Linked DNA regions of Homo sapiens: region 2 is linked to region 1. The links come from fine-mapping of genetic effects on gene expression. Tissue or cell type: skeletal muscle. Region 1 holds a variant in brackets; the other region holds the start of a gene. All regions are shown on one strand. Distances are from middle to middle.

The links. PIP is the estimated chance that this variant, and not a neighbour inherited with it, causes the effect. A credible set is the group of variants that fine-mapping cannot tell apart.
Region 2: ZNF554 starts here. The variant in region 1 is the best candidate, but not a certain one, in a credible set for the expression of ZNF554 in skeletal muscle (FUSION, PIP 0.64).

Annotation. Positions count from the first base shown.
Region 1 is chr19:2,772,909-2,778,125 of GRCh38, reverse strand. All of the region lies in intron 1 of SGTA (small glutamine rich tetratricopeptide repeat co-chaperone alpha), which reads left to right. Among named protein-coding and RNA genes, the nearest start is that of SGTA, 7.8 kb to the left of the region's middle. The variant G/A (reference allele first, on the strand shown) is at 2,598.
Region 2 is chr19:2,816,600-2,821,816 of GRCh38, reverse strand. ZNF554 (zinc finger protein 554) reads right to left here and starts at 1,949. Exons shown (of 5, transcript NM_001102651.2): 1 at 1,693-1,949. The coding sequence starts at 1,745. RefSeq lists an enhancer at 845-1,538 and a silencer at 1,471-1,910.

The DNA.
Region 1 (5,217 bases):
CACCTGTCTGGGCCTGTCACTCCCTCTGTAAGAGGGGGCTGTGACCCCCGCCTTCTAGGTTTATGCGGGGACTCAGCCAGGTCTGATTTCTTTTTTTTTTTTTTTTTTTGAGATGACGTCTTGCTTTGTCACCCAGACTGGCGTGCAGTGGTGCGATCTCAGCTCAGTGCAGTCTCCACCTCCCAGGTTCAAGCAACTCTCCTGCCTCAGCCTCCCGAGTAGCTGGGATTACAGGCACCCGCCACCACACCCGGCTAATTTTTGTATTTTTAGTAGAAGCCAGGCTGGTCAGGAACTCCAGACCACTTCAGCCTCCCAAAGTGCTGGGATTATAGGCCTGAGCCACCGCTCCTGGCCCAGGTCTTGTTTCTGCTGCTTGCTGTTGCCTCTTCCAAATCTGAGGTCACCAAGTGAGGTGTGTCTGCCTGGGGATCCTGACCTGATGCCGCCTGTTACAGAATCATTTCCAATGAAACCTCTGAAGAGATGTCGGCACCATTCTCAGCTAAAGACACCTGGTTGGGTGTGACCCTCATCTCAAAGACCCCAGACTTTGAAGAGAAACTCTTTTCTTGAGGCAGGGTCTCACTCTCTTTCCCAGGCTGGAGTGCATTGGTGTGATCACAGCTCACTGCAGCACGGACCTCCTGGGCTCAAGCGATCCTCCTGCCTCAGCCCCTCAAGCAGCTAGGGCTATAGATGTGTGCCACCACACCCAGCTAATTTTTTAATGTTTTGCAGAGATGGGGTCTCCCTATGTTGCCCAGGCTGCTCTTGAATTCCTATGCTCAAGTGATCCCCCCGCTTTGGCCTCCCGAAGTGCTGCTGGGATCACAGGTGTGAGCCACTGCGCCTGGTCTTTTTTTTTTTTTCTGAGATGGAGTTTTGCTCTTATTGCCCAGGCTGGAGTACAGTAGTGCGATCTTGGCTCACGGCAACCTCCACCTCCCGAGTTCAAGTGATTCTCCTGCCTCAGCCTCCCAAGTAGCTGGGATTACAGGCGCGCACCACTACGACCGGCTATTTTTTGTACACTGGGTTTCACCTGTTGGTCAGGCTGGTCTCGAACTCCTGATGTCAGGTGATCCGCCTGCCTCGGCTTCCCAAAGTGTTGGGATTACAGGCATGAGCCACTGTGCCCGACCAGTCTTTCTTTTTTTTTTGAGACGGAGTTTTGCTCTGCCACCCAGGCTGGAGTGCAGTGGCTCTATCGCAGCTCACTGCAGCCTCCACCTCCCGGGTTCAAGCGATTCTCCCGCCTCAGCCTCCTGAGTAGCTGGGACTACAGGTGTGCGCCACCATGATTGGCTAATTTTGTTTGCATTTTTAGTAGAGATGGGGTTTCACCATGTTGGTCTCAAACTCCTGACCTCAGGTGATCCACCTGCCTCTGCCTCCAAAAGTTCTGGGATTACAGGCGTGAGCCACCATGCCAGGCCAAAAATTACCATCTTAATCAGTTATAAATGCACAGTTCAGTGGCTTTAAGCACATTCACACAGCTATGTAGCCATCGCCACCATCATCTCCAGAAGTTTCTCATCTCCCCAGGCTGAAATTCTGTCCCCATGAAACATTCACTCCCCAGCCCCTGGCACCCCCAATTCCACTTTTGGTCTCTGTGAATCCAACGACTCTAGGGACCGCCTAGGAGGGGAGTCACACAGGTTTTGTACCTTTGTTTCTGGCTTATTTCACTGAGTGCGACGTCCTCAAGGTCCGCCCATGTTGTAGCCTGGTCAGGATTTCCTTTTCATGGCTGCGTAGCGTTCCGTCGTGTGGCTAGGCCACATTGTGTTGATCCACTCACCTGTCCGTGGACACTTGGGCTGTTTGCTTTTGGCTATTGTAATGCTGTTGTCAAAACGTGCTTAAAAATAAAACAAAAGAAACTCCGTAAACCAAAAATCTTCACCTTTCGGGTGGCATGTGTCTGTTTTCCTTGGGCTTGGGGGTCAGGAGACCTGACTGGTTTGCTCTCTGAACCCTGTTGGCCGGGGCGGATGACGTCAGCTTTTGTGGTTTCACTTTCTGGTGGTGGTTGACTGCCGTGGGCCCTGATGTGTCGTACATGAGATCTTTGGATTCTGGGACTGGCTGCCCGCCGGCTCTAGGCAGTCCTGATCCCAGACCTCAAAGTTCTGGGCTGTCCATTGTGTCCTGAGATGGGGGCGGAAAACTCATTACCATCCCGCAGGAGCTTTCAGGAAGACCGTAACTCCCTGTCCAGCGACACAAAACACAGCTCTTGTAGATTTCTCCCCCTTTAAAACATTGAGCTGTGATTCCCACACCGCTGTGATCCCCACACCGTGAAATTCAGTGGCATTTGGTGCCTTCACAGGGTTGTGCAACCATCACCACTCTCTGGTTCCAGAGCTGTCTCATCGCCCCAAAAGGGAGCAAGGAAGCTGGTCCCCACCAGCTGTCACTCCCCTTCCCCTCCCCAAGCCCCGGCACCCACGCGTCTCCTTCCTGTCTCTGGATGGGCCTGTCCTGGACATTTCATAGAAATGGAGTCGGTGTCACACCCTGTGTGTGCTTTGGGTCTGGCTCTTTTGCTCTCTGTTTTGTTTTGTTTTTTAATGATTGCTGAT[G/A]GATGTTGCTTTCCCTGAAAGGGAAACAAAGCTGTGGGCACACCCAGTGTGTCTGGGACTATGCTTGTTTAGTGGCGTGGAGGTCCACGTCGCCGGTGTCATCTGAGTCTGACGTCAGCCACTGTTTAAAGCGTGGCGGGCCAATGCCTTGCTTGTCTCTGGCGCGGGGTGGGTTATGCGGTCAGGCAGCCCACGCCTCATTTTCTAGGGGGTGGTGGCTGTTCACCTCATGTAGAGGCATTTTAGGGGAACCAAGACACTGAACGCCTCTGATCTTGAGTGTGGGGGCAGGTCAGGCGCCTGCCGGGCGCGGATCCTGCCGTGCCTGTGGCTCCAGTGGCCTTGAGTGAACACCTCCATCCCCAGTCCTGCCGCATAGGTCACTGCGCCGAGGTCATGAGACGGTGTTGTGTCAAGGGCCTGGTGCACCCACAGGCTCTTCAGGTCCTCCTCTTCTAGTCCAGCTTTCTCCCAGTGGGAGCTGTGGATGTTGAGGCCGGATCATCCTCTGGGATGGAGCCGTCCTGGGCACTCCAGGGCACTGAGCAGCGTCCCTGGCCTCCCCCCACTCCATGTGAGACAACACCAAGTGTCTCAGCACATCCATCGAGAACCGCTGGTCTGGGAGAGAGACAGAATCTGGAGAGACATGCACGCACACACACACATGCGCGCGCACACAGCTTCAGCAAAATCCAGTGGGTCAGTAGAATCCACGGCTTTCCTCAGCATTTGCCTCCTGGAGGAGGCCGGGTATGGTGGCTCACACCTGTGATCCCAGCGCTTTGGGAGGCCAGGGTGGGAGGATTGCTTGAGGCCAGGAGTTTGCCAATGTTCATGGGCAGGTATTTTACATAGTTGACGTTCTAGGTCTGCGAAGTGCTCAGGTAGGTCATCTGCATGGTTTTAATGCTTTTGGTGCCCTGCCTCTGATGCTGTCTACACGGGGATGGTTGTAGGTGAAGGCCTCTGTGTACGCGTGCACGGGTGTTAACCTACGTGTCTCGGGCCATTAGACATCTGTGCACTTAAAGTTAAAATGGACATTTGCATAGACGTGATAGGAAGTGTCGTTTTCTTATAAAAGAAGCTGCCCCTCGGGCAGCTGGCTCCTGGGACCGCAGCACAGTGAGCAACGCGCAGCTGCTCCCTCCCTCCGTGTCCCTCGGCCACCGCCCTTCACTGCTCCCTTCCGTGTGATGACAGCCCGTTTGTTCTCCTGTCTATGTGATCCTGGGCATGCGACCACGCGTCCCTGCCCAACCTGGCTCAGTTCAGCTGGAGACAGGGCCGACCCGCTTGTTGGAGTCGTCACGAGGACTGAGGTGCGTCCTGAGATGCCTGCTTGCCAGGTGTTAGTGTCGGTTTGCTGGGGCCGCGGTGACAGAGTGCCATAGACCAGGCAGCTGAAACAGAGTTCATCGTCTCTCAGTCCTGGAGGCCGGAAGTCCATGATCAAGGTTCTGTCGGGGCTCGTTCCTTGTGAGGACGTGAGGGCAATCTGGTGTCCCTGCCGTGTGGCCGCGTCACCCATCTCTGCCCTCGGTGTCCCTGCCCTGTGGCCGCGTCACCCATCTCTGCCCTCGGAGTCCCTGCCGTGTGGCCGCGTCACCCATCTCTGCCCTCGGAGTCCCTGCCGTGTGGCCGTGTCACCCACCTCTGCCCTCGGTGTCCCTGCCGTGTGGCCGCGTCACCCACCTCTGCCCTCGGTGTCCCTGCCGTGTGGCCGCGTCACCCACCTCTGCCCTCGGTGTCCCCGCCGTGTGGCCGCGTCACCCACCTCTGCCCTCGGTGTCCCCGCCGTGTGGCCGCGTCACCCATCTCTGCCCTCGGTGTCCCTGCCGTGTGGCCGCGTCACCCATCTCTGCCCTCGGTGTCCCTGCCCTGTGGCCGCGTCACCCATCTCTGCCCTCGGAGTCCCTGCCGTGTGGCCGTGTCACCCACCTCTGCCCTCGGTGTCCCTGCCGTGTGGCCGCGTCACCCACCTCTGCCCTCGGTGTCCCTGCCCTGTGGCCGCGTCACCCACCTCTGCCCTCGGTGTCCCTGCCGTGTGGCCGCGTCACCCATCTCTGCCCTCGGTGTCCCTGCCGTGTGGCCGCGTCACCCACCTCTGCCCTCGGAGTCCCTGCCGTGTGGCCGCGTCACCCACCTCTGCCCTCGGTGTCCCTGCCGTGTGGCCGCGTCACCCACCTCTGCCCTCGGTGTCCCCGCCGTGTGGCCGCGTCACCCATCTCTGCCCTCGGTGTCCCTGCCCTGTGGCCGCGTCACCCATCTCTGCCCTCGGTGTCCCTGCCGTGTGGCCGCGTCACCCATCTCTGCCCTCGGTGTCCCTGCCGTGTGGCCGCGTCACCCACCTCTGCCCTCGGAGTCCCTGCCGTGTGGCCGCGTCACCCACCTCTGCCCTCGGTGTCCCTGCCGTGTGGCCGCGTCACCCACCTCTGCCCTCGGTGTCCCTGCCGTGTGGCCGCGTCACCCATCTCTGCCCTCGGTGTCCCTGCCGTGTGGCCGCGTCACCCACCTCTGCCCTCGGAGTCCCTGCCGTGTGGCTGCGTCACCCACCTCTGCCCTCGGTGTCCCTGCCGTGTGGCCGCGTCACCCACCTCTGCCCTCGGTGTCCCTG
Region 2 (5,217 bases), 44 kb before region 1:
TGGCGTGCACCTGTAATCCCAGCTACTCGAGAGGCTGAGGCAGAATTGCTTGATCCTGTGGGGTAGAGATTGCAGTGAGCCGAGATCGTGCCACTGCACTCCAGCCAGGTGACAGACCGAGACCCCATCTCAAAAAATAAAAATAAAAACAAAAAAGGAGAAAGAGACACAGGGAAGAAGGCCACATGATGATGCAGGCAGAGCTTGGAGTGATGTGGCCCCAAGCCAAGGGACACCAACTATGGCAGGCCACCCCCAGAAGCTGGAAGAGACAGAGAAGATCCTCCCGCCAGAGCCTTCAGAAGCACCACGGCCCCACCACATCTTCATGTTGGGCTTCTGGCCTCCAGACTTGTGAGAGAATAAATTTCAAGCCTCCCCCTGCCCCCTGGTTTGTGGTGCATTGTCACAGCAGCTCCAGGAGGCTCATGTAAGAACCAAAGGCGCCGGGCGCAGTGGTCACTTTGGGAGGCCGAGGTAGGTGGATCACCTGAGGTCAGGAGTTCGATACCAGCCTGGCTGGCCAACATGGAGAAACTCTGTATCTACTAAAAATATAAAAATTAGCCAGGCGGGGTGGCGTGCACCTGTAATCCCAGCTACTTGGGAGGCTGAGGCAGGAGAATCACTTGAACCCACGAGGTGGATGCAGTGAGCCGAGATCGTGCAACTGCACTCCAGCCTGGGCAATAGGGCGAGACTGTCTCAAGAAAAAAAAAAGAAGAAGAAAAAGAAACCAACCTGTTTGGGTAGGGGAGAGTTCAGGGAGGTTGGGGTTGCTAGAGCAGCAGAAAGGTCAGCTGCCTCCCTCATTCCTCAACATGGGTGGTGGGTATAAACAGAATAGACCCTTGCAGCTGCGCGGTGGCTCACGCCTGTAATCCCAGCACTTTGGGAGGCTGAGGCGGGTGGATCACCTGAGGTGGGAGTTCGAGACCAGCCTGGCCAACATGGTGAAACCCCGTCTCTACTAAAAATGCAAAAATTAGCCGGGCGTGGTGGCATACGCCTGTAATCCCAGCTACTTGGGAGGCTGAGGCAGGACAATGGCTTGAACCCGGGAGGCGGAGGTTGCAGTGAGCCGAGATCATGCCATTGCACTCCAGACTCCGTCTCAAAAAAAAAAAAAAAAGGACCCTTGCTGTCTTATCACCAGGACAGCGGTGCTAACGTATAAGTGAGGTCTCTCCCTCAGGGCGCTGTGGACACTGGAGCCTGGGTCATTCTCTGGGCTGGGCAGGGTGCTGAGTTGCATCCCTGGCCTCCACCTACTCCATGCCAGGAACTGCCCCCAGTTATGACAACCACAGACGTCCCCAGACATCGCCCGGTGTCCCCTGGAGGGCAGGACCGCCCCTCGCTCAGACCCTCTGATGTGGCCTCACTGCAGTGCGAGCGTGGCAGCCCCTCTCTGCCTTTAGGGTAGAGTCAATGCGTCTTCTCCCTCTCCTTGCAGGCTGGGCCTCGGAAAGCTTATGCGTCTCTCACCCAGGGGCGTTTTCACAGGGCAAGGGCAGACCGTGCCATCCTGGGCGTTGGGGCCCTGGGCGAGCTGCCGGCTCCCGACCCTCCCGTGGGGACCCTATCGCGACAGGGTCATGCCCCGGCCACCCGGCCCCGCCAGACCCAGCCCCACCAGAGCCCCGGCAGGCCCGGCACGGAGGTCGCGGCGCGGGAGGCGGCGGCACTTACGGCTGAGCTGCCGGGAGCCGCGCGCGCCGGCCCAGGTGGGCGCAGGTGACCATCGGGGCGCGCGCTGAGGCGCCAGACAGGGCCCCCGAGGCGGGAGCGCCCCGTGCAGGCCGGCCGGCCTCCCCTGCGTGTCCCTGGGACGCCTCCTCCGCTCGGCTCCTCGGCGCTCGGAGCGGACGCCCCCCGCAGGCGCCCCTCAGGAACTCGCCGCAGCCGCCGCCACCAACCCCGACGCGCGCAGAGGTAAACTCGGCACTGCGCCTGCGCACCCCGAACCTGCGAACTACAAGTCCCAGCAGGCCCCGCAGCGCGGCGCTGGGCTCCTGACTCTCCAACCTGGGTCACAGCGCCGCCTCCGGGCGGGCGGCGTCTCCGCAGGACCACGATGCCCCTGCGGCTGTTGGATCCACCCCGTGTGGTTCGCTGGAGTCCCCGGGTGTTGTGGGGTTCGCGGAGCCAATCCTCAAATCCCAGCTCCGTCGTTTCCCGGCGGCTTGCCATTGGATATTAATAACTACTATTATTTATTAAGCAAGTTATATAAACGTATAATGTATTACATACTTATTAAAATGATTGCTTAAGTAATTGTTGTTTGTTTTTGAGACTGAGTTTCGCTCTTGTCGCCCAGGCTGGAGTGCAATGGCATGATCTCAGGTCACTGAAACCTCCGCCCCCTCGGGTTCAAGCGATTATCCTGCCTCAGTCTCCCAAGTAGCTGGGATTACGGGCGTGCACAACCACACTCGGCTAATTTTTTATATTTTTGGTAGCGACGCGGTTTCACCATGTTGGCCAGGCTGGTCTCGAACTCCTGACTTCCAGTGATCTGCCCGCCTTGGCCTCCCAAAGTGCTGGGATTACAGGCGTGAGCCACCACGCCCAGCCAAATTAAATTATTGTTTAAATATTTATTTAATATTCTACTGATTGTTATTTATGAGAAATTAAAATAGTAAAACTACTATAATTAATATACTGTTGTAGGATACAACAAATTCCTCTTCAAAGGTTTTAGCCTGTAAATTGTTAAGTACAATCAGTTATGAGCTCCTCTCCAAAGAACCAATGTTTCCGTATATTCAGCTCCCCTGTTCTTTTTTTTTTTTTTTTTGAGATGGAGTCTCGCTCTGTCGCCCAGGCTGGAGTGCAGCGGCGCGATCTCGGCTCACTGCAAGCTCCGCCTCCCAGGTTCACGCCATTCTCCTGCCTCAGCCTCCCAAGCAGCTGGGACCACAGGCGCCCGCCACCACGCCCGGCTAATTTTTTTGTATTTTTAGTAGAGACGGAGTTTCACCGTGTTAGCCAGGATGGTCTCGATCTCCTGACCTCGTGATCCGCCTGCCTCAGCCTCCCAAAGTGCTGGGATTACAGGCGTGAGCCACCGCGCCCGGCCACCTATTCTTTGTTCTTCATTTTAAACTTTAACTTCCTCGTTCTTTTCGTTTCCTTGCCCCTAGTTTCAGTAAACAACCCCTCCTAGCCCCTATCACCTGCTCTGACCTTAGTCACCCTTGGTCACCTGCTCTGACCTTAGTCATCCTTGGTCACCTGCTCTGACCTTAGTCATCCTTGTCACCTGCTCTGACCTTAGTCATCCTTGGTCACCTGCTCTGACCTTAGTCATCCTTGGTCACCTGCTCTGACCTTAGTCATCCTTGTCACCTGCTCTGACCTTAGTTATCCTTGGTCACCTGCTCTGTTCTTAGTCACCCTTGTCACCTGCTCTGACCTTAGTTATCCTTGGTCACCTGCTCTGTTCTTAGTCACCCTTGTCACCTGCTCTGACCTTAGTTATCCTTGGTCACCTGCTCTGACCTTAGTCATCCTTGGTCACCTGCTCTGTTCTTAGTCACCCTTGTCACCTGCTCTGACCTTAGTTATCCTTGGTCACCTGCTCTGTTCTTAGTCACCCTTGTCACCTGCTCTGACCTTAGTCATCCTTGGTCACCTGCTCTGACCTTAGTTATCCTTGGTCACCTGCTCTGACCTTAGTCACCCTTGTCACCTGCTCTGACCTTAGTTATCCTTGGTCACCTGCTCTGTTCTTAGTCACCCTTGTCACCTGCTCTGACCTTAGTCATCCTTGGTCACCTGCTCTGACCTTAGTCACCCTTGTCACCTGCTCTGACCTTAGTCATCCTTGGTCACCTGCTCTGACCTTAGTTATCCTTGGTCACCTGCTCTGACCTTAGTTATCCTTGGTCACCTGCTCTGTTCTTAGTCACCCTTGTCACCTGCTCTGACCTTAGTCATCCTTGGTCACCTGCTCTGACCTTAGTTATCCTTGGTCACCTGCTCTGACCTTAGTTATCCTTGGTCACCTGCTCTGTTCTTAGTCACCCTTGTCACCTGCTCTGACCTTAGTTATCCTTGGTCACCTGCTCTGTTCTTAGTCACCCTTGTCACCTGCTCTGACCTTAGTTATCCTTGGTCACCTGCTCTGTTCTTAGTCATTCTGAGTCACCTTTTCTGTAGCCGTCCTTCCTGCCAAACTACTCACCCCGCCACTCTGGCTCATACCCCTGCTCTTTAAAACAGCCAATCAGAATCAGCTTAGACTGTGCGGGCCAACCCTAGCCAATAGGGGAACAACACAGCAGTAGGGGTACCTGCGTCAGGGGTAAGAACCCCTTCTCCTCCCTCGTTCAGGTGTGCTCGTTCAGGCGCCGCCAACCCCGACTCGCGCAGAGGCAAACTCGGCATTGCGCCTGCGCACCCTGAGCCTGTGAACTACAAGTCCCAGCAGGCCCCGCAGCGCGGCGCTGGGCTCCACCTGCCAGACGCACCCTTCTATAGAAGTAAAATTGCCGTGCTGAGAAAATTAATGTTCGAGTGCTGTTTCTTTTGTGGCACCGAAAATTTATTTCTAACACTATAAAGGTTCATAATATAGTCTCACTAATTGCATTAGTCAGTTCTCACACCGACTAAGGCAAGGGCCACCACGTCTGACTAAATGTTTGTATTTTTTAGTAGAGACGGGGTTTCCTCATATTGGCCAGGCTGGTCTTGAACTTCTGGCCTCAAGTGATCTGCCTGCCTCAGCCTCCCAAAGTGCTGGAATTACAGGTGTGAGCCACTGTGCCCAGCCAATAAAAACATAAATAATAACTGGGAATTTATAGGCTCACATAACCGCCAAGTTCAGGGGCAGGTCCGGACCCCACCGTAAACTGGGTTGGAGGTGCTTGGACGATGTAGTGGGGTAGCCTTCATCACAGCCGTAGCGTCCTCCGGGTTGGCAGGCCCCACTCCAAGCACCTCCACGTGCCGACAGCATTCCCTCCTCCCAATTTCAAGTTCAGGGAAAAATAAAATTCTCTAATCGTTCAAACCGAGTCAGACTGGAGGACGGCACTGATGTAGGTGCTCCAAAATAGGTCACCAGCCCATCCGCAAACCAACGATGAGAGGTGGCCGGGGGCACAGGATGGCCTTTGGGACAGAGCTCCGTCTCCCTGACCTCCTGAGCTGAGGATGGGGCAAGAGGGAACACACAAGGGCAGTCTGGGGTCTGAAGAG